Regions from separate parts of the Homo sapiens genome. Here regions 1, 2, 3 and 4 are each reported to be linked to region 5. The links are microRNA targets in miRTarBase. Many come from high-throughput screens and were not tested one by one. Region 5 holds a microRNA gene; each other region holds the end of a gene's coding sequence.
What was found. The annotated mature microRNA hsa-miR-1909-3p reads CGCAGGGGCCGGGUGCUCACCG and lies in region 5 at 3,739-3,760, shown strand. An mRNA with a match to its seed (bases 2 to 7 or 8) in the 3' UTR can be bound and repressed. Matches are read on the target gene's strand: a 7mer-m8 pairs with bases 2 to 8, a 7mer-A1 pairs with bases 2 to 7 and ends in A, and an 8mer does both.

Region 1 (5,772 bases), not on the chromosome of region 5:
CATGCTCCGTTTTGGAAGTGGAGTGCTGGGTGGTTTGGGACAGGTGTGGTCTGGGAAGTGGCGGAGGCCGAGCGTGTAGCGTCTCCTCACTTGCAGGCTATGGGAACCGGCAGAGGGGAACACGTGCGCAGGGGCCTGCAGAAGCAGGATGTTATCTGGGCCGAACTGCAAGGGACGGGTGGTGGGAAGGGCAGGGAGGGAGGCCTGGCAGGACCCTGGGCCAGGGCAGTGGAGGCCCGTGGTGGGTGGGAGTGGGAGTCCGGTTGCCGCACGCTGCACGTGGCTGCACAAAGCCTCCTTCCCTCTGGCTCTCCCGCTTCCTTTTCTTCCTAGGCCATCTGAGTGAGGATCCCCGGTTTCCAAAGCTTCAGTGGCCCACTCCGGACCTCTGCCCAGCCTGCCATGAGGAAATTAAGGGCCTGGCCAGCTGGGATGAAGGCCACGTGCTCACATTCTTGAAGCAGCACTATGGCCGCGACAACCTCTTAGACACGTATTCCGCAGACCAGGGGGATTCCAGTGAAGGAGGAACCCTGGCCAGGGGTGAGGAAGAGGAGAAAAGACTCACTCCCCCAGAGGTGTCCCATGGAGACCGAGACACCCAGAGCGTCCGTCCACCTGGTGCACTGGGCCCCAGGCCTGCCCTTCCAGAGAGCTTGCATCACAGCTTGGACGGGAAACTCCAGAGTCTGGATGGGCCCGGGGCCCACAAGGAGGTGGGCGGGGCCGCACCCTTCCTCGGGGTTGACTTCTCCAGCCTGGACATGAGTCTCTGTGTCGTGCTGTACGTGGCTTCATCCCTGTTCCTCATGGTGATGTACTTCTTCTTCCGGGTGAGGTCCAGGCGGTGGAAGGTCAAGCACCACCACCCGGCCGTGTGAGTGCCCGGGTGCTGCCAGCCACGGCGGAAGCTCCCTTGGAGGCAGCCCTGCCCCGTGCCACCTGCAGCTTTAATATTTATGATCAGGGATTTTATAAACATGCGGGCCTGGTTTCACATCGGATGGCACCTTTTGGCTTCAAAGTCCTGGTTTTACAAACGCTCTTCTAACAAGGGAAGAACACGGGGTAATTTTGTGGGGATATTTGCATTCCTGGCGTACTCAAGTCTGTTCATGCTCCTTTTGCAGGTCTTACAGCAAAAAGACTTCTGTATTTTTACTCTTCTAGATGTGAAAAGAGGGTGCAGAGTCCAGGCCAGATAGTCTTCCCCACACACTTTCATCTCGTTTCCTCCACTCCGCCCCATCCTGCAGGGCCTTGTTTTTGTATTTGGAGAACCTCGCCCATCCCCCCCGCGGCTCCTGGCTCCCCCCCACTCCCCTCGCTCCCCCTCCCCCCGCTCCCCCCACGCCCCCTGCTCCAGGCTGCCAAGTGTTTTCCTTTAGCCGGGCGGGGACAGACAGAGCCGGAAGCGCAGTCGGCCTCTGCAGCCCCTCCAAGCAAGTGCTCCAGGGACTATCCTGTGTTTGTAGCTGCTTCCCTAGGGCAGGTTCCTGAGGGCTCTCCTTGTTCCTCCGGGTGTTCGACACCAGACGTGGGGATTTCAACAGGGGAGGAGCCAAGGAATTCTGTGGCTGTGCTGCGTTTCAGAAAATAACCCCCAGAGGCCTTGGGCTGTGGACCTGGGGGTTGGAAGGATGGGGGCTCATTTAACCCTCAGAGGCAGCGCCTTTGTCTGTCTATCTGGTGACAAGAGAGAGACAAGTAAATGGGGGCCGTTGGGACGGCGGGTGCCTGGAGGGCAGCTCTGGGCTCAGCGGGCAGTGCTTAGAGCACAGGCCCCTCTGTTGGGGGATGGGGAGGAGAGCAGTCTGCCCTTGGGAGCGTAGGCCCCAGGGAGACTTCTAAAGCCCCCCCTGTCGTCTGCTCTTCACCCAGCACCACAGAGGCACCTGCTGCACACACAAGCATCTCACTCGGCCCACGGAGGGGGCCAGGCTTCCTTTGCCTGAAGCTGTTTTGGGAAGGGTCTCCACACAGGCACTGATCTCCCAAGCTTTTGTCATGATGTCTTTTACCATTTGATAATTTTAAACATTGTTTTTAAACCCAAAACATTTAGTGGTCCGTTGCCTCTGAAGATGTAAACAAACAAATACACTATTTCTGGGAACATTTATATTGAGATTCTTTGTGGCTATTGGTGTGTCTCACAGGCAAAATTTGATTTGGCTAAAATAGGCTCAGATGTATTTGTGTGCCCGTGTGTGTGTGTGTGTGTGTGTGTGTGTGTGTGTGTGTATGAGAGAGAGAGAGACTTTGACGGTTGTAGATATTTTTTCCGCTTTGCCTACTTTATGTTGTATAATCATGTGTTTACTAACAAGTTGATGACATGGATGTATTCATAAGACCATGTAATATTGATGTGATTGTTGTCGCTTGAGAAAAAAAGGCAACAGCTGATTCTTTCAACAACTGTCACAGAATGGCTGGGCTGAGAACGCTGCCCAGGGCCCTGCAGCTGGCGGGAGAGGTGTCTGGTGGGAGCGGTGTCTGGTGCGTCAGCCTGCTGCTTCGTGTCTCACTCGAGAGTTGCTTCTGGTTTCACACTTTTTAACCCCTCTGTGCTTTAGCAGCCGTGACCTTGCCTTCATTGCTTCATCCAGTGCAGGCCTGGGTTATTGAAGACACCAAAGTGTTTCTCTTCCAGTTTGAAAACCAGGCAGGTTTACACGTGGGTTTCAGTGTATTTGCCTTTGAACCCTTCAAACTAAACTTTAGCCTTTTGGCTGGTGTTGAATGTCTTTAGCTGGGGTGACCTGGAGTGACCTGGGACGGTGTTGTGGTTTACCGTCTCCAGCTTCAGCCTTTCCAGAAACCCTTGTGGAGGGCAGTGTTGGCTGCAGGTTTCATCATATTGCAGTTTGAGGTCACCACTATTTGGGGAACAAGCTTGCGTCCTGCTGAGGGGCAGGATTTTCAGCAGAGCGTCGGTGGGGCTGGGCCGTCGTGGAGGTGGCCCCAGGAGTCATATGGCCATACTCAGACACACCTTGTGTGGCCTGCTCAGAGCTGGATGCCACCTTTAGGCAATGTTTAGAGTCTATTTTCTAAAGTTTTAAGTATTTTAAGAGGTATTGAGACTAATGAATATAATAGTTCAGTAATTTAAATGCTTATTTATTTTCAGTGGAAGGATTTTTATTAAAAAGAAGCTAATTGACATGGAAATGTCAGTGAAATTTCTTACCTGCAAGGAAAGTGAACATTTTGTATTTAAGTAAACTATAATGTGCACATTTTAATAAAGAAATCTGACATTTGAAAAAATGGTGATTCTTTTGAAATGTGAACCAGCTCTACCAGTGGGAGTTGTGGTAGAGGCGGTGGGTGCAGAATGGACCCCTCTTTTGTTCACGTACTGGACATCTGAAATCCTAGAGTTTCTCCTATCGAATCATTGGCTTTTGGGACACAGCCCAAGGGTCGGATGGAAAGTAGAAGATGGAAAGCAGTGATAGATCATCTCCCTGGAGCTGATCTGGACGAGACTCACAGGACAAGACCCTTGATTTTACACAGGTTAAAGGGCAGCTGAGATGCATGTCAGCTACACACTTCAAAGAGCACGCGCGGCAGCCCAGCCTGAGGGCACCTCAGAGGACCCCCAGCTTGCTTGAGTGGCCATCCCTCTGCTTCCTGGGTGTGAGTGTCCTGCTAAGGCTGTTTGTGGTGTTCTGTGGGGTGCCCTTGACCCCGTGTTGTCTTCTGCCCCTCCCCTACTTTTGCTGTGCCAGTGGGGGCAGGGCAGTGGTCAACAGTCTTGCCTGTGGCTGTGGAGGAAGCCGGTTGGCACCTCCCTGGCCAGGCTGTGCAGAGGCTGGCAGTAACTCAGTCACTCGTCAGGCACCGAGCAGACACCAGCCTGGGTGTGTACTGGGCGATTCCTTCAGGCCCTGCCTATGCCCAAGGTCTTGAGTCCTCAGCAGTGCTTTTGTTACAGGGGACTGCAGGTGCCTCTCCTCCTGGCAGCCCGGAGGGGTGCGGGCTGAGCTCCTCCCAGAAGTTGGGGGTTGAGTTCAAGGAGGTTAAGAGTGGAAAGTTCCCTGACCAGCAAAACACCTGCAGGAGAGTGCCCCAGTGAGCCCTGGGCTGGAGTTGATCACGCATGGGGCTGCCCCGGGGCACGGCCTGGGCACTGCCTTCCAGAGGCTGCACGCCAGAAGGGTAGGGTCAGTGTCCTCCTGCCCTGCGGCTGGACGACCCGCTTGCTGCGAAACTCGGCGAATCCCAGCGCCTCAGCAGGGCCTGGAGCTTAGGGAGGAGCGGGCACGGCCACCCTGGGTCTCAGAGGGGTGAGGGCGGGGGCTGCCTTGAGTGCGGCCCAACCCAGCCAGGGAGGGAGGCGCGCCCGACACGGGGCAGAGGCGGGGGTGGGGACCGGGGCGACGAGAGGGGCCCCGGGAGGTGGGCGGGCGCGCGGGCGGGGCGGGCAGCGGGCGCCTCCTTCAGCACCGCGGACAGCGCCAGGCCCAGTGGCTCCCGGGCTCCCTGCCCCGCACGACGCGGCGGGACTTGGGAGCCCCGAACCCTCCAGGGGACGCTGACCTAGGAGGAGCGCGTCTCGCGCCACTCGGCCTGGTGGCCGCGATGCTGCTGGAAACGGGGCTCGAGCGCGACCGAGCGAGGCCCGGGGCCGCCGCCGTCTGCACCTTGGGCGGGACTCGGGGTAAGCCCCAGCAGGACACTGAGGACAGAAACGGCAAGGGCGGCAGAGGCGCGAGGAAGGGGGTGCGTGCAGGGCCAGCGGCCAGGCAAAGAAAGTCCCGCCGCTCTGCAGGCGGGACACAGAGATGGAAACTGCAGAGAGTGAGTTTCCAGATCCCAGGGTGGCGGGGAGGGCCTGACGCTGGCCTGCAAGAGTGCGGGACAGCGGTTGGAGTGGAGGCCCCTAGAAAAAAAGGGGGCATCGCAGGCACAGCTGGGGGGCGATGGGGCCGACCAAGGGGTGCTAGGTTCCCCCGGTGACCAGTGCCCGTCAGCTCTTGCACACAGCCCGGCCCAGGTCTCTGGACCCCACAGCAGGGGACCCAAGCCTGTGTCTCCCGCCTGAACCACCCTCCCCAAGGGCCATTCCATCACCACGGACGCTGGGAAATAATGGAGGCATTGTTGGAGGGCTGGCCAGATGCCAGCAGGGTGGGCCGCCTCCTTAACCTGCCGCCGCCCCTTCCCCAGTCCTGCCACACACGACCCCTGATCGCTTCGGCAGCAGCTGACACTCAGCCACCTGCACCCAGCACAGCCCGCACACACTCGGCTTTGCACCCGCGTGTCCTTGCCCTGGCCCTTCTTGGGTAACAAGTGCTGTGCAAAGTGAAGGGGCAGAAAGCTGGCTGCATGGGCCACTGCTCAAAACGGACACATCGGACCTGCTGGGAGCTAGGAGGGAGGGACTGTGGTTTCTTGTGCCCATCCTTCTGGGCCTGGGCCCTTAAAGCTCACAGTCCAGAAGCCATAGGCAGAGTGGACAGAGTATTGCTGTGAGACCCACAGGGAGAGGGACCTGCAGGATGGCATCAGCCCCTGGTCCCCCAACCCTTCCTGTGTGTTTCTGCGCACTGCCAGGGCACCCCTGCCTTTGCCAAGTCCTGTGCTGCCGAGGGCCACCCACTGCTGTGTTCTTCCCCGGGTGGCTGCCCAGGGCTGGTGCTGGCCCAGGGCCCTCTGGGCAGGGGTGGGTGCGTCCCTCTGCCTGCAAGGACAGGTGGGTTCTGGAGAGCTCACCTGTGTGGACTGGGGCAAGAGGCTGAAATATCAGGTAAG
Region 2 (5,772 bases), not on the chromosome of region 5:
ATGCCTTGGGACTAGCTGGTGAGTGTTCGAGTGCTGGGTAGTCAGCCAGAGCTTTGCCTGTACTTTCCTACTTGTGGGAGTTCATCTTTGTCAGGGTCTAGCCTTTTCCCCAAGCTGCTTAACCCTTCCCAGGATTCTGCAGAGACATGGCCAAAGAGCAAGCCAAGAACTACCATGGCCAGGTGTGGTGGCTCCCGCCTGTAATCCCAGCACTTTGGGAGGTCAAGGCAGGAGGGTCACTTGAGGCCAGAAGTTTGAGACCAGCCTGGGCAATATAATGAGACCTCGTCTCTATAAAAAATTAGCCAAGCATGGTGGCGTGTGTCTGTTGTCCCAGCTACTTGGGAGCTGAGGTGGGAGGATCGCTTGAGCCCAGGAGGTAGAGGTTGCAGTGAGCCGGGATCACGTCACTGCACTCCAGCCTCGGCGATGGAGCAAAACCCTGTCCCACCCAGACCCCCTAAAAAAGAACTTCCGCCACCACGTGCCAGTTGTTCACTTCCTATCAGGCATCGTGCTGAGCTGTAGTATCTCATTTAATTGCCAGCCACAGTACAGGGAGGCAGTAGAATTGTTCCCGTTTAGTAAATGAAACTGCAGCTCAACAGAAGCAAGTAATCTACTCCAGGCCTCACAGCCAGCAAGAAACAGAGCTGAGATTCCAACCCATATCACTCTGAGTCTGCGAGAACGGCTTATTCCTTTGCAATGTGCCTAGCACCTCCCACCCTTTTAGCTCTTGCCCCGCTCTCCCCTCACCACTTCTCCAGGTTGGCTGACTCTGTGACTCTCTTGGCTTCCAGGTGATTACCTCGCCCAGGGCCTGAAGCTCAGCCCTGGCCAGGTCCAGACCTTCCTGCTGTGGGGAGCAGGGGCCCTGGTCGTCTACTGGCTGCTGTCTCTGCTCCTCGGCTTGGTCTTGGCCTTGCTGGGGCGGATCCTGTGGGGCCTGAAGCTTGTCATCTTCCTGGCCGGCTTCGTGGCCCTGATGAGGTCGGTGCCTGACCCTTCCACCCGGGCCCTGCTACTCCTGGCCTTGCTGATCCTCTACGCCCTGCTGAGCCGGCTCACTGGCTCCCGAGCCTCTGGGGCCCAACTCGAGGCCAAGGTGCGAGGGCTGGAACGCCAGGTGGAGGAGCTGCGCTGGCGCCAGAGGCGAGCGGCCAAGGGGGCCCGCAGTGTGGAGGAGGAGTGAGCCGGATGCCCCACACACCGCCAGTGTCATACCAAAGAGCTGAGCTGCTTCGGGGCCATGCAGCCCTCCTGCCAGCCCCCTGCCCTTTTCTTGCCCTGTCTCTGAACCTTCAGAACATTGATCCTTGCCGCAGCCCCACTAGCCAAGAGAAACAGAGAAAGACCATTCCCCCTGCCTGTCCTTGCGGCCCTGTCTTCTGAGGTTCTCTGTCTGGGGTTGGCTCTCTTAACCCTTTCTCTGCTCCCAGCCTGCCTCACCAGGGAAGGTTGGAGGGGCCTCCCTCTGGCTTCTGCATCTGCGCCAGCAAACATCACTGCCGTTGGTCTCTCATGACTTAACTGGCTTCCCTCTGCTGCTGCCTTGGCTTCCTCCTAATGCTCGTGCTCTCCTGTCCTTCTGAAGTTGCTCCTTGGCCAAATCTCCAGCTCCCTTCTTGTTTTCCTCATCCTCCTACCCTGTACTCCCACCAAACCATGGTCCTTTAAGGCACGCTCCTGTCCTCCTCATTGCCCAGCAGTAGGGAGGGGCAGGGGTAAGGGGACCTGAGGATAAAGGGTGGGGAAACAGGGTCCCCTGAGGCCTGTGGGGGCTGCAGGGGAGGAGGATGTACCTTGTGTCTCTTTCAAGTGCCTTAATCCGAGCCAGCAGGGCCTTCTGCTTGCCTGCTGCCATACTGTATGTAGGAAAGTGTTCTGTGGCTGCTTTGTGTCAAGAAAAGAGCAGTCACTCTCAGAATCTTGATTCCCCATCAGCCAAAGCAAAAGATGGCTGCTGCTTTGTAGGCATGTGCCTGCAAGTGGGACCTTGCTGGGCATTATATGCCCTGTGGGGGTTTCAGAGACCCTGAAAGAGGAGGGAGGACCCGCCTCCTTGTCTGCACAACTGCATGCACTTCTCTCCCCATCGCTCCACAACCTGAAACCGAGAAGGAGTTGCTGACCAGTGCCCACCCCGGCAGCCCGGGAGGAACACAGGCAGCTCCTTTCCCTTCACGTGGTCTGCAGAGAGCAGGGTGAGCTGCCAGCTGCCCCTCTCCACCAGGGTACCCTGTCTTGGTGGTTAGGGGCCACTTTTCCTTTGAGGCTCTAGTGGAGGTGGATGTCCTTCTCTGCCAGGCTTGGCACATGATGTGAAGAATAAATGCCCAATTCTTACTGTTCAGGTTTGATGTGGAATCACAGCTGCAGTGATATATATTTTTTATCAGTGCTTGGTTGGTTTTAAATAAAGTGCACGCTATTTTATTATCTTGTTCTGAATAAAATGTATTTACTCCAAGTCTGGATTGCTTCCATGTCTCCTCTACTGCTAAACCCATTTCTGTAGTGCAGCTCCGCCTCCCAATTTCTCCCTGTGGGGGCAGTGTGAAGCTGGCAGAGGGGAGAGCTGAAAAGGCAGGCTGGTACCAGGTACCCTTCCCTCCAGGAGCACAAGGAATTAGGAAAGCATGCCCCCATTACAAAACGTAGGAACGACTGGCACTGCTGGAAATGCGTGTGCTTGCTGGGCAGAGGGGTCACCCCTTCCCTGCAGTGTGCTGAGGTGGGTGGGCAGCCTGGAGAAGACTTGCCTGCCCTCCCCTTCACCACCCACCTGAGGACTTTCCTGTGCCAAGGTTTCCAGTCGGCCCACAGGCTGGACCAATTTTGCGGAGGGCCTCAGACATAATTTTTTCTTTGTAAGCTGCCCAGGGCATGAGAGTGTGCAGCTGGGGCCCCTGCTCTGGGCCTCTCCCCAAACTGCCTGGTAGGCAACACTGGGTCAGGACCCTTGAGGCTGGCCTTCCCTCGGGAGTGTTGGGCAACCCTCAACCCTCCTAAGCGCTGCAGGACGCTGCCCAGGTGGAGCTGGTCAAGAGACTAGAGCTGCCTGCACCTAGAGCCCTTCCTCCACGGCGGTGGCCTAGCTCTGTCAGGGCAGGCTCAGGTGGTTGGCATCTGGCCCCGTTTGACCCCCTCCCTCCTTTCCTGTCCCTGCAGCTCCCGTCCCATGTGTCCCTGAATTCTGGTTCTGACTCAGGTGTCAGATGCCTTCACAAGTGAGCTGCTTGTGGGGGTGGGTGAGGCAGAGAAAGTGGCTTTTTCTTCCCTGATCAGAAGCTTCCGTGAGGGAGCCACACAGAACTCACCGAGTCCCTCCTGGCAGAGGCGGCCGTCCTCTGTTGCTTCCAGGGACGTGGCCCTCTTCCCGACCTCGGTCGCCTGAGCGCGCAGGGATTGGGGATCCGTAGGGCACTAGGACCCGGCGGGGCGGAGGGGGCAGCCCATGTGCTGCGATTCGCTCCCTCCCACCCCACTGCTCCCGCTCCATTGTCTGGGAATTGCAGCCGCGGGGCGGGCGGCGGCGGCGGCGGCGGCGGCCGGGACCCAGCGGGCCAGGTGGGGACGGCGCGGAGCGGGTGCGGGAGATGCCGTGCGGGACTGGGGCCACCTGAGCCGCCCGCCTCGTCCCCGCCTTCTGTGGGAAGGATGTGCGCGCGGATGGCCGGTCGCACAACAGCGGCCCCTCGGGGGCCCTACGGCCCCTGGCTCTGCCTCCTGGTGGCCCTCGCCCTGGACGTCGTGAGAGGTCAGCGGGAGGGGAGGGCCGGGGCGAGGGGCGGCCGGGCCCGGCCGAGTGGGAGCGAGTGATGCCCGGGAGCCACCAACCTTTGGGTTCTCGGACTGAACCCTGAGCGGGGTCGCCCCGCAGCGCCCTGAAGGTCGGAGAGTTCTTGCCCTCGGGAACCTGCCCCCAGCCACTCGCCCCTAAGGCTTCCTTCACCTTGCACGACCCGGCAACTCCTTCCTGACCCGGGGCAGCCCGGCGCAGGGGCTTCCCCGTCCCGCACCTTCTGCGAGGGACCCCTCAGCCCGGGCATCGAACCCGGCGGCCCCGGTCCCGGGCGCACTAGCGTCATCCCCACTCCCTCACTGTGGTCTGTAGCGCTGCACCCTCCTAGCCTCCTTCCGCCGCCACCAACCCACCCCCCTCGGGAGTGGAAAGCAGCCCCTTTGCCTGGGACCTGCAACAGACGCAAGCCCTCCCTCCCCCTTCCCCCAGGGCTCCCTGACCTTGGCGTCTCCAGGGATGGCCGCATCCTTGCCTTCCAGAACCTTTGAGAGGATTCCTGTCACTGCGGGAAAGGGCAGCAACTTCCCTGTGCTTCGGGGTGGGGGTCGGACTCCCTTGGCCTGGGCTAGCTGGGCTGTGGCTGCAAGGCAAAGGATGCCACAGAAGACAGAGGGACAGTGAAACATTCTCTGCCCTCCCCACCGAGAGAGCCGAGCGCTGGGTGATGGGAGTCCGTGGGAGTCAGGCTAAGAGCATCTTGTAATTATGGAGGCAATGGAGTAGGAGGCGAACCTGAAGCCAGTGGCTGCCCCCAGAGAGCAGTGGTCACTTGTTACGCTTGGGGCAGGGGGCAGGGAGAGCCTGTCAGTCATATGCTCCTTGGTGGGGAGGGCCAGGAAGGAGGTTGAAACCAATTCCCCCACCCCCACCCACAGTCCAGCTGTGGGGCTGAGAGGGAGCTAGCTGTGGGGTTGCTTTCAGCCACCTGCTCCCCATCCCGAGGGACGCCATGGGAGTCCTAATAGAGAGAGGAGGAAAACCTTGTCAAATCCATTATGCAGCAGCAATAATGCCTGCTCCCTCCAGACAGCACTCCACAGTTTACACAGCCCTGTCCTGTCCACAGTGCCACCTAATGCTCCTGCCCCTTTTACAAGTGAGGAAACAGGCTTCAAAATGTTAATGCCTGACCCAAGTTTCATCAATTTAAATTCAGGTCTCCAGGCTCCCAGGAAATCCTCTCTAGGGAGCGCTTCCTAGTTTGGGGGAATTCCAGGATGAGCAAGACAGGGTCCCTTGTTTATAGGAAGATTACTAATTCAGAGGAGGCACCCAGGGTTGCAAAAGACAGGAGACTGGTGGGAAGGTGAGTAACCAAGGAGGGCTTCCTTCAGAAGGAGGCAGTATTCACTCATGGCCCTGAATGAGGAGGGAGGTGCCACCGGGCAGAGCAGAGGAGAGGAGGTGCGCTCCAGGGCATGAAGCCTGCAGGGTGCACCGTGGCAGTGGAGAGTGGAGAGAGAAGTGGCAGGTGGAGACGCCGGATGGTCTAGTGGCTAATACCTGGGATCAACCCCCAGCTCCTTCACTCTCCAGCTGTGGAACCACAGGCAAATACCTTAACCTCTCGGCCTCATTTTCTACATCCACAAAATGGGATTCATCATAATAGAACCTGGTTCACAGAATTATTACAAAGACTCAAAGAGTTCATATACATACAGTATTTAAATTCTCACCTGCATATAGCATTCACAAAATGCTAATTATTATTATTAGTGCTCATAGTTAGAGCAAACCAATATGGCTTAGTGCTCCTTTGTCCTTCTGATGATTGACTATTTTGACTGTCTTCCCCAGGCTCCTGGTCCCCACCCCACCCCCAGGGCAAGCAAGTGCCTTCACAGACCTCTTCAGCACCTTCCGCGCCCGCCCATCCCACACTTGCACTCGATACCAGTCGGTTCAGGGAAGAAGGGAGCAAGCTTGGAAAGATGGTGCAGGTTGCCATGGCAATGATGGGG
Region 3 (5,733 bases), not on the chromosome of region 5:
ACGCAGCTGGTGACTGGTTGGGGCAGACCGGACCCAGGTTTCCTGACTCCTGGCCCAAGTCTCTTCCTCCTATCCTGCGGGATCACTGGGGGGCTCTCAGGGAACAGCAGCAGTGCCATAGCCAGGCTCTCTGCTGCCCAGCGCTGGGGTGAGGCTGCCGTTGTCAGCGTGGACCACTAACCAGCCCGTCTTCTCTCTCTGCTCCCACCCCTGCCGCCCTCACCCTGCCCTTGTTGTCTCTGTCTCTCACGTCTCTCTTCTGCTGTCTCTCCTACCTGTCTTCTGGCTCTCTCTGTACCCTTCCTGGTGCTGCCGTGCCCCCAGGAGGAGATGACCAGTGCCTTGGCCACAATGCGCGTTGACTACGAGCAGATCAAGATAAAAAAGATTGAAGATGCATCCAACCCTCTGCTGCTGAAGAGGCGGAAGAAAGCTCGGGCCCTGGAGGCTGCGGCTCTGGCCCACTGAGCCACCGCGCCCTCCTGCCCACGGGAGGACAAGCAATAACTCTCTACAGGAATATATTTTTTAAACGAAGAGACAGAACTGTCCACATCTGCCTCCTCTCCTCCTCAGCTGCATGGAGCCTGGAACTGCATCAGTGACTGAATTCTGCCTTGGTTCTGGCCACCCCAGAGTGGGAGAGGCTGGGAGGTTGGGAGGCTGTGGAGAGAAGTGAGCAAGGTGCTCTTGAACCTGTGCTCATTTTGCAATTTTATCAGTAATTTGACTTAGAGTTTTTACGAAACCTCTTTTGTTGTCCTTGCCCCACTCCTCTCCACCAGACGCCTTCCTCTCTGGATACTGCAAAGGCTTGTGGTTTGTTAGAGGGTATTTGTGGAAACTGTCATAGGGATTGTCCCTGTGTTGTCCCATCTGCCCTCCCTGTTTCTCCACAACAGCCTGGGGTTGTCCCCGCTGGCTCACGCGTTCTGGGAGCTCAAGGCCACCTTGGAGGAGGATGCCACGCACTTCCTCTCTCGGAGCCCTCAGACATCTCCAGTGTGCCAGACAAATAGGAGTGAGTGTATGTGTGTGTGTGTGTGTGTGTGTGTGCACACGTGTGTATGAGTGCGCAGATCTGTGCCTGGGATCGTGCATTTGAGGGGCCAGGGGCAGGCAGGGCTGCAGAGGGAGACGGCCCTGCTGGGGCTTAGGAACCTTCTCCCTTCTTGGGTCTGCCCTGCCCATACTGAGCCTGCCAAAGTGCCTGGGAAGCCCACCCAGATTCTGAAACAGGCCCTCTGTGGCCTGTCTCTATTAGCTGGGTTCCGGGAGGCAGAGAGGAGTGACCGGGCACTGGCACTGCGATCAGGAAGACTGGACCCCCAGCCCCCAGGGCCCCCCTCCCCCCACTTAGTGCTGGTCCTAGGTCCTCTGAGGCACTCATCTACTGAATGACCTCTCTACTTCCCCTTCTTGCCATTATTAACCCATTTTTGTTTATTTTCCTTAAATTTTTAGCCATTTCTCCATGGGCCACCGCCCAGCTCATGTAGGTGAGCCTGGGCAGCTTCTGTTGGCAGAGCTTTTGCATTTCCTGTGTTTGTCCTGGGTTCTGGGGCATCAGCCAGCTACCCCTTGTGGGCAAAGGCAGGGCCACTTTTGAAGTCTTCCCTCAGATTTCCATTGTGTGGCCTGGTGGGTCAGGGGGAGTCTTTGCACCAAAGATGTCCTGACTTTGCCCCCTTGCCCATCAGCCATTTGCCATCACCCCAAACAACTCAGCTTCGGGGCCGGTGAGGGGAGGGGCCTCCCCCAGCACAGATGAGGAGCAGCTGGGGTAGGCTGTCTGTGCCATGGCCCCCCACTCCCCCTTCCCTTGGAGGGAGAGGTGGCAGGAATACTTCACCTTTCCTCTCCCTCAGGGGCAGGTGGTGGAGGGGCGCCCAGGGTCGTCTTTGTGTATGGGGGAAGGCGCTGGGTGCCTGCAGCGCCTCCCTTGTCTCAGATGGTGTGTCCAGCACTCGATTGTTGTAAACTGTTGTTTTGTATGAGCGAAATTGTCTTTACTAAACAGATTTAATAGTTGAGAGTTTTTCTTTCTCTTTCTTCCTGGGGCTCAGGCCTTACCCCCCACCGCCTCTATGTGCAGAGGGGTTTTGTTGGGTGGTGAGGGTGTGGGTTGGGGGTCCTGGGAGAGGAGCGGAGGGCCTCCTGGGCGAGCAGGAGCCAGCACCTCATTGGTGAGGACCTGGGCAGGATGTGTGTAGGGCATCCTTAAAGCAGGACAGGGAGGCTGCAAGGGCTCAAGCCCATCTTCTTTTGCCAAATGCAGAATCAGGAGCCAAGCTCTTTTTGGCATATGATTCTTTGACCTACATAGCCACCACCAGGTGCTGGCACCTTTAGCCTGCGAAAGCCAGCTGGTATAGGGTCCAGGGAAGAGGGGGTGCTGGTGAATTTGGTTGAAATCCTGGTAAAGATACCAGGGGAGCAGGTTAGTGTAGTACCGGCACTCTCCAGGAGGCGGTGATAGGGGTCAGGCAGAAACCAAAGGCTCTACCTCGGAGCTAGAAGAGACTTCATGGTTCCTGTGGCCCATTCTCAGTGCACAGATGAGAAGACTGAAGCCCAGAGCTGGGGCCACATGATGACTTGACCCGCAGCAGAGCCTAAAGTAGAAACTGGGCTACCTGCCCCATTGCAGTCCCTCCGGGTCAGATGGGAAAATAGCACATCCTTCACTGTGTCACCCGCATTTTCTTATGTGACCCTCAGAGCTGCCAGCAAGAGACAGTACAGGGCGGCTGCTGATTGCTGTTTTATGTGTGAGGAAAGTGACTGAGAAGGTGGGATGATGTGCCACAGTTGCATGGTGGGATTGGAACTCAGATCCCTCTCCCCGCTGGAGGAGAGACCTGCTTGTCCCCTTTGCTGCCAGAAGGACCATGTCTCCACCCTCAGCTCCTGGGAACAGCAGGCCCTGGACCTCCCCTTCATGACAGTGGGTTGCTGAGGTTGGTTCTCGCCTTGAGACACTACTCATCACTCTAAAATCACAGCTCAAAACAAACCAGCATGGGGGTTTGCTTTCAGAGAAATCCACTTATTTTGTCTGCACTTATGAAGGTGTTAGAAGCAATAACCCAAGAAGGAGGAATAAGGGGTGCTAGGAGGGAGTCAGGGAGAGAAGGAGAGGAAGTTGTCAGAGTTCTGCTATCTTTAGAAGCTGTTATTAGTTTCCTGTTAACAAAGCTTCTGCCATATTAATTTTATGGCTTAAAACAACACAAATTTATGATATTCCTGTTCTGTAGGTCAGGAGTGTGATAGGGTCTCACTAGGCTGGCTGGAGTCCAGGTCTCAGCAGGGCTGCATTCCTCTTTGGAGGGTGTTTCCTTGCCTTTATCAATTCTAGGGGCTTCCTGCATTCCTTGGGTCATGACCCCCTTTCTCCATCTTCAACCGCAACCTTGCATTTTTCTGATCCTTCTGTGGTCACTTCTCTGACCCAGCTGGTGTGATAAGATTGAGCCCACTCAGATAATCCAGGATAATCTCCTCATTGCAGGGCCCTTAACCGTAATCCCATCTGCAAAGTCCCCTTTGCCATGTAAGGGAACATAGCCACAGTCTGGGGACCAAGACATGGGCATCACTGGGGGCCAGGATTCTGCCACAGAGGCCCGTTGCACAGCCTTCTTGGCCTCATGCCCAACGTTGGCCCTTGTGTTTTGCTTCCTTCCCTGACTCAGCCCATTTCAGGAGGATGCTTTTGTGGTCAGCAAGGATTCAGGCTGGGGTTGGCTTTCAGGGAAAATGGCTGGGGCGAAGGGCCAGGAGGGGTCTGGCATGGTTAGTGGGGTCTTGCCACAGCTTTTCACCCCCATGCCCATGTCCCTGACCTTCCATGCTGGCATGGCCCTGCGAGTCCCTGTCTCTAGGGAGAGCTTAACACCTCTGCTAAATGCCTGGGTGGGATGGCAATGGAAACTTTTGTCCCTAAAGGCAGATGCTGGCTTGCATGGGTTCAGGAGCAGGTGTGCTTCTTGAACACCCTTAAGTAGTGTGAGATGTAAAGAGGAGCATAGAGACACTCCTGGGCCCCTACCAAGTACCGATGCTGGGCTCTTCCCCTCCATCTCTTCATTATCAGAACCCTCTGAGGTAGTCAGTCTCGTTTCCAGCTTACCTGTAAGAAACTCCAACTCAGAGGAGTAAAGGGACTCGCCCAGCATCACACAGCTAGTCAGGGATTCTGACCTGGATCTCCTGTTTCCAAGTTTAGAGCTTCTTTAAGAAAGCCCATGGACATCGTCTTGGTAAGGGAGTGCAGAGGGGGCGGGGAGGAGAGGAGATATGAGGCTGGATTCCACTCCACTGAGGAAGGTCTAGTTTTCTTTGCTATAGAATGAGGGTGATAGTCCTAGGCCTGTGGCTGTTTTAAGGATTCAGTGAGATGGTGGATTTATTTATTTATCTGAGACAGAGTCTTACTCCATCACCCATGCTGGAGTGCAGTTGTGTGATCTTGGCTCACTGCAACCTCCGCCTCCCAGGTTCAAGGAATTCCCCTGCCTCGGCCTCCTGAGTAGCTGGAATTACAGGCACATACCACCATGCCCAGCTAATTTTTGTATTTTTAGAAGAGATGAGGTTTTACCATGTTGGCCAGGCTGGTCTCGAACTCCTGATCTCCAGTGATCCGGCCACCTCAGCCTCCCAAAAAGTGCTGGGCTTACAGGCATGAGCCACTGTGCCCAGCCTAGATGGTGGATTTAAATGCTTCCTAAAATGCCAGCTGCCAGGTGGCCTTTATCACCAGGAGGGTCCCACCCCTCAGTGCGCTGCTCAGCAGTGGGAGCACAGGGAGCCCCAGGCTTGGAGTCGAGTCAGTGGCCTAGGCCTGGTCCACGCTCCTGCCCTGAGCTTCACGGCGGGTCTCTGTGCCTTGGGGTGAGCAGGCAGTTGGGTTGGTAAACAATAACAGTAAATTTGGGGTTTTCCTTTGACTGGGTTGGAGACAGGAAATGCAGGAGGCTGTGAGTGACGAGTGGGTAGAGTGGGTAGCAGGTAGGTCGGGTAGGTCGGGCCTGCTCAGGGTGTGAAGGAAATTCAGTTATTCAAGGGAGGAGGGTGAGGGTGGTGAGGCTGGGGAAAGTGGCTGGCCCACTTACTGGTGAATATAAACAAACCCTCTGGGCACTCCCCAGGTGGGGCAGAGTGGGGACAGGGGAGGCTTTGAGGGGCAGCCACCGCATCCTCAGCCCTGAGAATGCAGCTCCTTTCGGGCTCTGTCTCTGGAAGCCTACATTTAGGGGCTCCAGCCGCCCCTGGGTCCTTTTGCTCACTTCATCTTCCTGTCGTCTCCCTGCACTCAGTCAGAACAGTGTGGCTCCCCAGCATACTCGACCACTAGATAATCCAGGCACTTGGTGTATGTCCTGTGCTTTGGGAGAAACAAATGAAGTGTAGGGCACAGTTCCTGCCCTTGAGAACCTAGTTGGGGAGATACAAAATGCCTGTGTGCAGCAGCAAGTGGCTTTGTCTTCCCTTTCCCTGTACCCACAGGCCTGGACACATTAGGGGCTGTTCCAGACTGAGAACAATGTGTCATTCAAGCCCAGGTGGCATAGGGCAGCCTCTTAGGGCCCCAGAGGTTTTCAGATGAGCATGAGTGAGGTGAAAAAACCAAAATGACAAAATAAACCACACCCTGGATCCTCGTCCTCTGGACGAAGATCTCACATCTATGCCTTGTTGGGGAGGATTTCAGTCCTCCCCCACCCA
Region 4 (5,772 bases), not on the chromosome of region 5:
TCCTTATAACTACCATTTCCCAATTTGTTTCAAAAGCCTGATGCCAAGGAATTTCCTGCCTGTGGTTACGCCATCCCAGCTTACTGCCAGTGAAAGTTTTATCAATTGCATCCCAGCCATGGTGCCCAGCCCCACTCACTGCCAGCCCTGAGGTCCTCATTGCGAGCTGATGAGTATTCAGGCTTCAAATTTATATTTTAGAGTAAGCTTTACAGACAACTTACCAAGGTCAGTTTCTCTGTAAGGCAGACTAGAGATGGATACAGGAATGCAGGAAGCATCCTGAAGAGCTGTAGGGTCAGCATGCCTCAGGAAATGGGGAGGCAGGACTGTAGGAGGAGCGAGGTGCTGAGCTACAGTGCAGGTAGAACAAAGACCCAGCTGCTCCTGCGGAGGATCCCAAGGGCTGAGAGCGTCATGTAGTGTTTTTTAATTGAGGAGAGAAGCGTGGCCTTCCTATTTTCAATTCAGCCAATCTTTCTTGTGGGCTGTCCCCTAGAAGGAGGAGTGAACTTGGAATTGGGCAGTGCAGCTTTCCTCAAGGGAGAAGAAGTCCCAGAGAGCCACCCAGCTGAGAACTGCCGGCCTCCAACACCCCAGCAGCCACAGATGCTGAGTTCTCCATTTCTTCCTTAAGGACCCACCAGCACCATTTTATTTATTTAAAATATACTGTAATATCTTTAATGGCCCAAACTGCTCGCGTTAAAAATGTTGATTTTAAAAGCCTGAACTGCTCATGTTAAAAATGCAGCGTCCAAACATGTGCTTCCCCGTAACTGAGTGTGCCCAACTAACAGAAAGATTTCAGATGACACCTGCACTGGGGTGGAGGTGGCCTAGGTGACATCTGAGGCCCTCCCAAGCATGAGACCCATTTCCGTGACTCACCAGGATGTTTTCTAGCCGGAAGGTTTCATTATGTCCAGTGTTCCATGGCTCCTCCAAGTTCTGAGAACACGGAGTCCTCCCCTTACTTCTGGGGCTAAGCAGGGAACCTGCAACTCTCATTGTGAAGCCATCCTCAAGCCACCTGCCTACCCTTTTATAGTCATTAAAATGTCCCTAGGAATTTGGACTTGTTTTGTTCCAAAGGACATGGTCTCAGGGATCAACCTAAGGAACACTAGTGATGAGCTTCTTTAGGTTTGAATGCAAGTAACCTTGTGACCCTCCCTAAAATCCATGGGCCTCAGTTTCCCTAGCAGAATGGAATGACAATCCCTGCTCCCATAGGCTTGTGAGGGTCAAGTGAGGAACCCCGTTGCCACATGTATGAATACCTGAGTACACACCCCCTCCACCTCTTCCCTCCAGGAGAATAAGCTGGCAACCTGGGACAGGATGAGTGAGAATGGGGAGCCTCTTTCTGTGGCTTCTGCCTTGTGCTGGAGTGAAGATAGCCTGGGCAGGATGCAGGTTCAAAGGTGGGGCATAGATGGGCCCAGGCAGCCTCAGATGGGGTAAGTGGAGGCCCCTACAATGGCCTCCCAAGTGGTCTCTCTCATAGCCCCTCGTCTTCCCTGATTTCCAGGCCCGGCATCATCCCTTACTGCGCTGCTCCTCATAGCTGTCCTCCTGGGCCCCATCTACGTCCCCTGGAAGCAGAAGACCTGACTGTAAGTACAAGGAAGGGAGGACAGACCAAGGGCTGTCTCAGAAGGGCAAGGCCAACAGGAAGGCCCAGCCCACATGCCATGCAGCACCAGGGTCCGTGGAGTTAAGCTCCCTCCGCACCCTCGGAAGTCTTGGGGAACCCTTTAAAAGGCTCCCAACCCACAGAAATTATGTGGGTGGTGTACAATGTGGGATGCTTGAAATGTGTTCAAAGATGTCCACAGTGCCCTAGGAGTTTCATGGAGGCAGTGATGAGTGGGTGGTCCCTTGCAGGCTATCTGTAGATTATTTGAATGCTGGGACTCCATGGGGTCAGAGAAATCCACATTGTAAACTAATGTTGAGAAACCCAAATGGGAAGCCCTGAAGGCTGTTTGTGCTCTGACCCTCTGTGTGTCTGAGTGGAAGGAATATTGGAAAGGGCATCAGGACTTGGCAGGATGGCTGAGCAGGCAGAGTTCTATCAGGACTGCCTGTCCACCAGTGACAGGTATCCCAGGAGACCAGCCCCGAGAACATAACAGACTCTCAGGAAACATGTCTTGAAAGATGAGCAGATGACTAAGTGTGGATGTGTTTTCCTACAGCTCCTTCCTTCCTCCCCTGCCACGTGGGACCCTCATCTCTGCTGCCTCCTTCCTTTCCTGAGAGGCTCAGCTTGAGAGAATGAGCCAGTGAGAAGCTTCTCTAGACTTGGCTCCAAACATCTCCCCTCCCAAGACATCTGCCTGCCCACAGGCTCCTGTTGCTCCTTCACACAGACCTGGATGCCCCAGAGCAAGGTCTTCATTCATGGTCCTGAGCAGGTGCCATGGGATTGGGCTCTGGGCACTGACTTAACGGCACCTCCCTAGAAGGCGAGAAACATGCCAAATCTAAACACACCAGGACTCCCATCCATCGCCTTGAGACTGACCGTAAACCACAGACGCTCTCCAGGTTCTCAAGAGTTATCCTGCCTTCCAGATTCCTGCCTATCCCAACTCCCCAGCCTTGTTGAGGTTCTCTATTGCCTCTTGAATACAAATGCACTCCCAAAGTGGTTTTAAGAAAATAAAAAGATTATCCTTCCTCTTTGTCTAAGGGTCCTACTCCTCACACTCAGAAACAAAGAAGCTCTCCCTGCTCTCTCTGTGATGGGAACACTAGTTCTAGCATCCTGCAGGCTTCCCCGCCCTGCTGCTCATGGCGGAAATGCTGCCGCAGTCCAAAAGCCTCCTTGACTCCCGAATCCTCCCTGATGTCTCTTTACACCCCATATTCAATTCTGCCTTCAAAATACTTATGTCCACTCGTGAGATGGTAAGTGTTTAAAAATGGACTCTCTTAAAGGAAAAAAAAAGCTGATTTGTTGTACTTGACAATTTCTGTGGTATAATCACCCCCAACATGGCCAGTTTCAAGCTACCAGAAGTTTAACAACTGGATTGCAAAATTCCTGAAACTTAACGGTTGGCTTTCAGGGGCCAGTCCAAGCCTGCTGCAGGAGAGCACTGAGTTACATCCCTAACCTGCACACTTCTCACCTCCATCACCCCTCCCTGTCCCGGCCAGCATCATCTCTTCCGGGAACACTTCTGTAGCCTCTGTTGGCTTTCATTTTTCAGCTACAGGGATTTTTGGAAAAGTCAAATTGTATCACTCCTCTGCTTCTTCCCCAACACAGCTGCATGGCTCCCTTCATCCCTCCTTCAAGCCTCTGCTCAATGTCACTTTATTAAAGGCACCTTTGGCAAACCACCCTGTACATAATATCAATTCTCCTGTCTACCCTGGCATTCTAATTTCTCTTATCTTGATTAATTTTTATTTAGCATTTATTACCATAAGCATTATAACGAATACAGGCAGCCCTCGCTTTTCACAGCAGTGCAAGATTGCAAGAATGACTGTGCAGCCGGAAACCCAGGAAAGCAATCTCCACATCCAATCAGAAAAACAATGATCATATTGTGACCTTTACAATTTTTTGTCAAAATATAGGAAACTCTCATAGTGTCAGTTACAAATGTAGAAGGCAATAAAAAATAATAAATGAATATTTATTAGTACCCTGTAATTCAAAACATTGGAAACATCAAGTGTTTCAGTATTTTATTTCTTTGTAAAAATGTTTCAAGAGTAGTTGGAAGAGTGCTTACCTCCTTCTTGTACACTTCGGATATGGAGCAAACATCCTTTCTATCTGGGTGTTTTATCACCTTCCTCTCTAAGTTTGGATTTGTTTCCAGCACCTTATCATTTGCACTTTCAGTGTCGTGAAATCTCTGCAAAAGTTCCTTTCACGTGAAGATTTTTGCTGTTGTCACATCCTCAGGGACACCTTCGCCCTATTTGTCAGTACCCCATCCCGTATCTGTTAAATTCACCTTCTCTAAGTCCTGCGGGCTGCCTATCTGAAGTTTTTCAAACACTACCAGGGTCTACGTTGCCTCACCAGCTATTCATGCTTCTATAACTCCACTGACATACAATTTGAACTTTATCTCCAGCATTTTCACTGCTCATTTATTCACTGCATTTTCACTGTGGTTGTCCAATCTCTCTTTCAATTATTTGTTTCCCAAAAATGTCACATGGGCTCATCACCAGTTACATGAGGTTGCAGTCTTATGTGAGCCTGTGCCCCTGGCCTGTGGACTTCACAAGTGCCTCTCAGTTTTTTCCCCTATGGTGGGACAGGATGGCCAGAGGGGGCTGGAGTTGGGTGCTTGCCTTCCCCAGGTAGGTTAGGCTCTGATCAAAGCCCAGCAGATTAGGCACTGGTAAAATAGTTTCTCCTGAGAGCTGGGCTTGGTAAGAAGAAAGAATGCTCTGGTGTAGTTCAGAATGATTCGCTTTCCCCTCCACACCCCCCAGGAAGCACAAGTGAATGTTTCTCTCATATTCACTCTGAGCACCTAATCAAGCTCCTGGAGGTAAATCTCACAACAGTGTTGGAGTTCCCTGCGATTGGGTCCTGCTGGAATCTGTTCCTCAGACTGGCCCACACCAAGCCTCTAGCAATTCTTCAATTACAGTGCAGGTTTTCCTACCCTGGCACTGGTTCCCATGGAGGTTTTGGCTTCAGGAAGTTGTAATTCTCTATATCATTTTGTCTAACTTCCAGTTTTGGAGACAATGGTCTGCTCTGTGACCTCATTTCTCTGACAGACCTGAGAAGAGTTGCCATTTCTTATTTGCTCAGCTTGTTACTTGATGTTGGCCCTAGGGACTTTTTGCAGGGGACATCCAGGAGTTTTGGTTCCATCCTTAAAGGCTGCTACAGTAACAAGACCTCAAACTTTCCACACCCAGAATTACAGTCTCTGAAAATCCAAACTCAGTCCTTAGCTACAGGGCCCTGTGGATCAGGGCTGTCAACTGAGGAAGGGCCAAGGGAACCCTGGCATGAAGTGAGTGCCCCTGGGACAGAGAGCAGGCCCAGAGCAGTCAAACTGTCTCCACTACTGTCCAAGGCTCCCAGGCGTGGGAACCCCAAGGTGGATATCAGCAACTTCCCAGGGGTGGCAACTCTGCCTGCTTCCTCTTTTACTATGAGACCATGCCAGTCTCGTGGCCTTTTCCTTCCACAGCAAATTCCCTCCTCAGATATCATGGCAGGTGGGGCTTCTCCTTCCCTGCAGAGCTCAGAGGCTGGGGTCTCTCCGTGATAAACTTTCAACAGAGCAGGCAATGACCATACCTGTCTTCCAGCCCACCTGGACAACCCTTGCCTCTTTATGCTATTGGGACTCACAGGTGAGAGCAGCCTGTTCTACACAGGTGTATTTATATGTAAGTCTCCTCACCCTCTCAGCCCATCTCACCCGTATCTATGGATTTCCATTTGGGAACATTTTCTTCTCTCCCATCCCAGCAGGAGACAAGATTTGGAGTACACTTTCCGTGAGCATCTGTGCAGACTCTTACCGGGATTTGCCTTTCTTTAGTCACAGTGATTTCCCGAGGTCATGCTTGTACCATGACCCAGGTGCTAGTAATGACTTCGTGATTATAGGGCTAGACACGTGACCCACACTCATCATGTGGTGGTATCTGCACATCCCCCAGCCATTGGCCAGGGTTGTCGCACTGCATCGTAAATCCTCGAGGACAGAGAGTCTGTTTTTTAAAGGTATTACTATTGCCAAAACACCACCTAATAACAATAAC
Region 5 (5,772 bases):
TCCTGGCGGGTGGGCGGGGGAGGCTCAGGGTTGCTCTTGGGGTGGCAGCTGGGCTGGGACCCTCGCTGGGACCTTCACAGCCCTGAGCTCAGCCACAGTCTCAGACAAAAGGAAAGCGCGGTGCTGTGGGGGGGCTGCCTGCTGCCTGGTTCCCAGGCTTCTGTGTAGGACGGACCTGGCCCTGGTGTCCTCGCTGTCAGCCGCCTTCCTCCGCTGAGTGGGGTCTCCAAGCCGAGCCGAGGGGCCGCCTGCTAATGGAGCTGCGGCAGCTTCTTCAAAGCAGGAGGCCCAGGGCTGGGCGAGCTCCATGCATTAAGCTCTGGGGAGGAAGAAAGCGGAGACCTGGGCGTTTCATTGCAGCCTCTCCAGGCTGCATTAAGCTATCACCGGCCCCTGCCCCCGTCCCCGCCTGCATTAGCACTCGGAGGGGCCCTGGGTTGGCGTCGCAGGCTGGGTGGCCCATGAAGGCTCAAAGCCCTCGAAAGCCATTAGATCCCCCGTGCTGTTCTCCCCGCCCTTCCCCCTTCGCTTGAGGGGAGGGGACGAAGACTTTGGGTGTGGGGCCTCCGTGCAGCTCTGGGGCCTGCAGAGCTGGCGGCTGCCCTGCGTCCCTGGCTCACCGCATGTCTGCCTCTCCTGTTCGGGTCAGGCTGGAACCCGGGGTCAGTGGGGTGCTGTCCCAGAAAGGGGGAGTTGAGGCAGAGGTCTGAGGAGGGCAGGGTGGGTGGGAGAGCAGGCGGGGCAGGGGTCTGAGCCAGCTACTTCACACCCTCCTCCCCTCCCTCCCTTCCTTCCAGAAACCAGTGGCCGCAGGGTTGTGTCCCACGAGGTGGTGTTGGGGGGCAGGTTGGCCGCCAAGACCAGCTTCTCGCTCAGCCGTCCAAGCAGCCCCCGGGTGGAGGACCTGAAAGGTAAGGCCCTGCCCCTGCTCTGCCACACGGTGCTTCGTGGGCCTCTGCCGGCCCAGCCCCTGCTGTGCCACACGGTGCTTCGTGGGCCCCTGCCGGCCCAGCCGCCTTTCCCGGTGGTGTCTACCGCCCCGTGGGCCATCCCAGGCAGGGGCTGACCACTGTGCCTGTCCACAGGGGCTGCCCTGTACAGCCGCCTCAGGGAGTACCTGCTCACCCAGGACCAGCTCAAGGAGAACGGCTACCCCTTCCCGCACCCAGAGCGGCCCGGGGGCGCAATCATCTTCACAGCTGAGGAGAAGAGGCCCAAGGACTGTGAGTCGCTGGCCTGCGACGGCCTAGGTGGGCAGGTGCGGGATGTGGGCAAGGCCGGGCATGCGGGCCCCAGCGTGAGCCTCAGCTTCCACCTGGGTCCCCACCCACAGCTTCCTGCAGGACCTGCTGCCGCTGTGGCACCGAGTACCTCGTGTCCTCTTCAGGCCGCTGCATCCGGGACGAGGAGTGTTATTACCACTGGGGACGGCTGCGCCGGAACCGGGGTAAGGCCTTACCCGGGTCCTTCCCCTTCCCACCCATGGCCCCCGGAACCTGGGCCCTCCCTTGAGGCCCCCAGAACTGGGGTAAGGCTTTACCCAGGCCCTCCATCCCACTCAGGGTCCCTGGGCTGCACCGTCTTTGGCAGAGCCGGGGCTAGCCCTTGGCCTCATTTTCTCTCCACCTGTTCTTTATGCAAAAGTAAGACAAGAGCTTTCCCATGACAAGGTTCAAATGCCACCACCTGAAAGGCCCTGTGTCCCTGCCTTCCTGTGCCCTTGGTCCATGGAAATGTGGAGGTTGCTGGCCCCAGGAGCGGAGGGGCTTGTCCCACCCTTGGCCTGGTGGTTCTATTCAATCCCCCAGGCAACCACGCAGCCACGCTCAGGGCACATGGCCAGCCTTGCACAGCCCTGTGGCGGCCCCTAAAGCCATCGCCTCAGGGATACCTGGAGGGTGCTGCCCGGGGCAGCGCTGCCAAGAGGCCTCTGCAGAGGGCACTGGTCTCCCTGGATCCAGGCCTGGGCGTCCTGGCTGCCACACGACTGCCGGGGCCTGGTCTGCTTCCAGCTCCACCAAGAGGCTGAGGCCTCCTGTCCTCAGTCCTCACTCCCTAGTAGGGCTCGGTAGATGCAGGTGGTCAGTGCCCCGGGGGCTGTGGAGTGGGCCTGGCCGGGCCCTGACTGTGTGTCTGTGTCCCCTGCAGTGGCCGGAGGCTGGGAGACCCAGTACATGTGCTGCTCGGCTGCCGCCGGCTCTGTCGGCTGCCAAGTCGCAAAGGTGAGCCCTGGCGTCCCAGTCCCCTCTGCCTGTTCTCAACAGACTTCTGCCTCCCCATCGTTGGTGTGGGGTCTCGGGACACAGCACAGTCCTGGGCTCAGGGTCTGGGCCCCCGGGCAGCCTTTCTTGTGTTACCCAGAGAACGTAGCACCCGTAGGCCCCAGGCCCTGTCCCTGGCCACTTCCCATCCTGGGAAGCCGTCCTCCCTGTGTCTTCTTGGCAAGCCCCCTTCCCCACCTGCTCACCAGGGTCCCAACCAGTGAATGGGCGTGATGGATGGATAGGATGGTCCCGAAGGGCTCAGAGATGTGCTGCTGCTGCCACCCCCGCCCCCACTGCACCCCGAAGCTGCCCTCACCTGCCTTCTCCACCCCCAGCAACACGTGCAGGATGGCCGGAAGGAGCGCCTTGAGGGCTTCGTGAAGACCTTTGAGAAAGAGCTCTCAGGAGACACCCACCCGGGGATCTACGCCCTGGACTGCGAGATGGTGAGGCTGTTCTCTGCCCAGCGTCGGGTTCAGGATTGGGGAGGACCTGGCCTGGTGCGGCCGCCCCATCTGGCCCCATCTGGGCCTGGCTCACCGGCCAGCGCTCAGGGTTTCTCTCGCAGCACCGGTGCCTGTGGCTCCTGCCCTGGACCAACACCCCATACTTCCCAGCAGAGCCAAGCACACCGGGCACTGGGCCCCGGCTCTGCCTCTGAATGGGAGGCAGGAGGGCTTTGCGAAAGGGGGTTACTGAGGTCACACCCCACTCGGCCTCTCCTAGAAGTCCCACAGAGTCTCTGGTCACTGCCTCTGCCTGGAGGGGCTCTGGAGACTCAAAGGGGCAGGGAAGGGGAGGGAGGGAGGCCGGTGCCTGGGACACATCTGAGGTGCATCCCTTGCCCGCAGTCCTACACCACATATGGCCTGGAGCTGACGCGCGTCACGGTGGTCGACACGGACGTGCACGTGGTTTATGACACCTTCGTGAAGCCTGACAACGAGATCGTGGACTACAACACCAGGTGTGGCCAGTGCCCTCCACGAGCTGGGAGCCCTCCCAGCCGCCTCTCCCCAGGGACCCACCCTCCCCCGCCCCACCAGCCAGTGCTTCCAGGCTGAGCCCTGGTGCCCCTCCTGCCCGTTCCCCCAGGTTTTCGGGGGTGACGGAGGCTGACCTTGCCGACACAAGTGTCACGCTGCGTGACGTCCAGGCCGTTCTGCTGAGCATGTTCAGCGCTGACACCATCCTCATCGGACACAGCCTGGAGAGCGACCTCCTGGCCCTGAAGGTGCCCTGCCGGCCCGGGTCCCGCGCGGTTCTCCAGCAGGACCTGCGCAGGCCCCACGTGCGCTGATCTCTGCCGCTGCCCACAGGTCATCCACAGCACCGTGGTGGACACGTCTGTGCTCTTCCCCCACCGCCTGGGCCTCCCCTACAAGCGGTCCCTGCGGAACCTCATGGCCGACTACCTCAGACAGATCATCCAGGACAATGGTGAGTGCCGGTGCCTGCCCTGGGGCCGTCCCTGCGCAGGGGCCGGGTGCTCACCGCATCTGCCCCGCAGTGGATGGGCACAGCTCCAGCGAGGACGCCGGCGCCTGCATGCACCTGGTGATCTGGAAGGTTCGAGAAGACGCCAAGACCAAGCGATGACGCCTGCCCGCCTCCCACCCGCCTCTCCTGCCGTCCCGCTGGTCCTTAGCCCCATGCCTCTTCCAAAACAGTGCAATAAATCTCCGGTAACCCGTCCACCTGGCCGAGGCAGCCCAGAGCAGCGGGATGAGCTGGCGGCCAGAGAACGCCCAGCCCAGCCCACCCCCGCTCACGTCCTGCCGCACCCCTCCGCCGGTCCCCACCCTCTGCCCCCCAGCCCTCTGGCGTCTCTAGAAACTGCTGCTGATGGAGACCAGGACAGAGCCCGCCCCCACCCGGCCCGCAGCCCCTCCTGCCCCTCCTGCCAGGCCCTCCCTCCCGGGTGGTGGCCGGCACCTCTGCTCCTCACGTGGGTCGCGGGGCGGGCTTGTCCCAGGTTTGTTTGAGACAGTCTTTTTTTATTTTGTATTGTTATTTTTATTATTTTTAATTTAAACCTGATGACTTGCACAGCATCTTTCCCACCGGGAAGAGCGGGCCTGCTGCCTTCCCTCCTGCGGGGTGGGGGTGGGACAGACCCCAGTGGGGGCCAGGGCCACACTCAGCGCAGTGTGGGCTGGACCCGCCTCTGTGCTCCAGGGGCTGGCCGGTCTTCGGGGGCGCCGGCTTCCACCACTCGCCGCCCCACCCCTGCACTCCGTGACCTCTGAGAACCCAGCTGGCCCCTCGTTAGCCCCAGGGTCTGCCGTCTAGAGGGAGCCCACCGGCCTCCGGACACTGTCTTCCCGCTAGAGCCCCGTCCTCCTCTGCGGGGCTCTCCGGACCCCCTTCCCCCTCACCTCCAGGCAGGGACAGAATAAATGTTTGTATGGATTTTAGATTTTGTGGTGGTCTTGGTCTTGGTGCCTGGTGAGGCCTCTGCATGTGCCCCGGGGAGGCCACTGTCCCTGCAGCCGGGACTGATTCTCTTCCCATCAACGCAGAGAAAACAGAGCAGTGAAACTTTCCCTCACAAAAGCTGGCCCAGGGCTGGCTCCCCCAGGGCTGGGCCACACCTGCTGTGGGGTCCCAGTTCCAGCCCCAGATCATGGGCCACCATCCTGCAGCTTCTAGTGCCTCTCGGACAGTGGGTGGTGTCCCCAGCCCTGTGTGGAGCTGGGCCCTGTGCACAGAGCTGGCTTCCCTCTCTGCCCTGCCCAGAGATAGGGACTGCACACAGATGGTGAGAGGGGGTTAAAGAGACTGGGAGCTGCTGTGTGTTGCCCGTCAAAGGATGGAGTGCAGACACGGAAAGCTGCTCCGGCCCTTGCCAGGAAACGCCACACATTGTGTAGTGCACGCACGTCTCGGGCAACTGTGGTTGCATCGGGACCCCATTTGGAAATGGGAGGCCCAGGGGTGTTTAGGCCCCACTTTTTATTGACCTCAAGTAGAAAAAGTGATGAGCCTTGCGGGACAGGACCCAGCAGCTGGGGGCAGGTTGCCTGGAGTGGGTTTCCTGCCACCCTGGTCTTGGGCTTCTGCTGAAGGGCAAGGCCAAGGGCACAGGTCCCGGGATGAGGACGTGGGGGCCCTCCCCAGAGGACTCCATCCCAAGGCTCCCTTCCCGGTTCTGGGCTCTGCATCTCTCCAGGGCCCTCCTGGGGGACCGTGGTTAGGCCAGGCCCTTCCACCCTCGAGGGCTGTTCTTGTGACTAGTGACTCTCCCACCTCTTCTGTAAAGGAGTTGTTTTCTTTTTCTTCTTTATTTTTGAGACACAGTCTCGCTTTGTCACCCAGTCTCAGCTGGCTGCAACCTCTGTCTGCCGAGTAGCTGGGATTATGGCTGTGCCATCACACCTGGCTAATTTCGTATTTTTAGTAGAGATGGGGTTTCACCACGTTGGCCAAGCTGGTCTCGAACTCCTGACCTCAAGTGATCCACCTGCCTCGGCCTCCCAAAGCGTTGGGATTACAGGCATGAGCCACT

Region 1: the mRNA of QSOX2 is a reported target of hsa-miR-1909-3p. Seed matches in the 3' UTR shown: 7mer-m8 at 1,355-1,361 and 7mer-A1 at 2,460-2,466.
Region 2: miRTarBase lists TMEM109 as a target of hsa-miR-1909-3p. Seed matches in the 3' UTR shown: 7mer-m8 at 1,272-1,278 and 7mer-m8 at 1,364-1,370.
Region 3: the mRNA of MAPKAPK2 is a reported target of hsa-miR-1909-3p. The part of its 3' UTR that is shown has no 7-base or 8-base seed match.
Region 4: miRTarBase lists SIRPG as a target of hsa-miR-1909-3p. Seed matches in the 3' UTR shown: 7mer-m8 at 2,218-2,224.

Annotation. Positions count from the first base shown.
Region 1 is chr9:136,203,837-136,209,608 of GRCh38, reverse strand. QSOX2 (quiescin sulfhydryl oxidase 2) reads left to right here. Exons shown (of 12, transcript NM_181701.4): 12 at 334-3,276. The coding sequence ends at 881. LHX3 (LIM homeobox 3) reads left to right here and starts at 4,481. Exons shown (of 6, transcript NM_178138.6): 1 at 4,481-4,675. The coding sequence starts at 4,597. RefSeq lists enhancers at 73-622, 623-1,174.
Region 2 is chr11:60,920,971-60,926,742 of GRCh38, forward strand. TMEM109 (transmembrane protein 109) reads left to right here. Exons shown (of 4, transcript NM_024092.3): 3 at 1-18; 4 at 804-2,473. The coding sequence ends at 1,195. It overlaps TMEM132A (transmembrane protein 132A), which reads left to right and starts at 3,490. Exons shown (of 11, transcript NM_178031.3): 1 at 3,490-3,763. The coding sequence starts at 3,664. LOC124902676 (a long non-coding RNA gene) reads right to left here and starts at 4,427. Exons shown (of 2, transcript XR_007062688.1): 1 at 4,249-4,427. RefSeq lists silencers at 3,386-3,745, 3,806-4,025, 4,066-4,135.
Region 3 is chr1:206,732,251-206,737,983 of GRCh38, forward strand. It overlaps MAPKAPK2 (MAPK activated protein kinase 2), which reads left to right. Exons shown (of 10, transcript NM_032960.4): 10 at 325-2,031. The coding sequence ends at 468. Among named protein-coding and RNA genes, the nearest start is that of IL19, 36 kb to the right of the region's middle. RefSeq lists enhancers at 2,377-2,566, 5,517-5,566.
Region 4 is chr20:1,626,069-1,631,840 of GRCh38, reverse strand. SIRPG (signal regulatory protein gamma) reads left to right here. Exons shown (of 6, transcript NM_018556.4): 5 at 1,535-1,619; 6 at 2,205-2,689. The coding sequence ends at 1,617. Among named protein-coding and RNA genes, the nearest start is that of SIRPG-AS1, 4.6 kb to the left of the region's middle.
Region 5 is chr19:1,814,157-1,819,928 of GRCh38, reverse strand. MIR1909 (microRNA 1909) reads left to right here and starts at 3,691; the gene lies at 3,691-3,770. It overlaps REXO1 (RNA exonuclease 1 homolog), which reads left to right. Exons shown (of 16, transcript NM_020695.4): 8 at 798-911; 9 at 1,086-1,223; 10 at 1,334-1,447; 11 at 2,149-2,222; 12 at 2,600-2,710; 13 at 3,116-3,231; 14 at 3,360-3,498; 15 at 3,584-3,704; 16 at 3,775-4,681. The coding sequence ends at 3,863.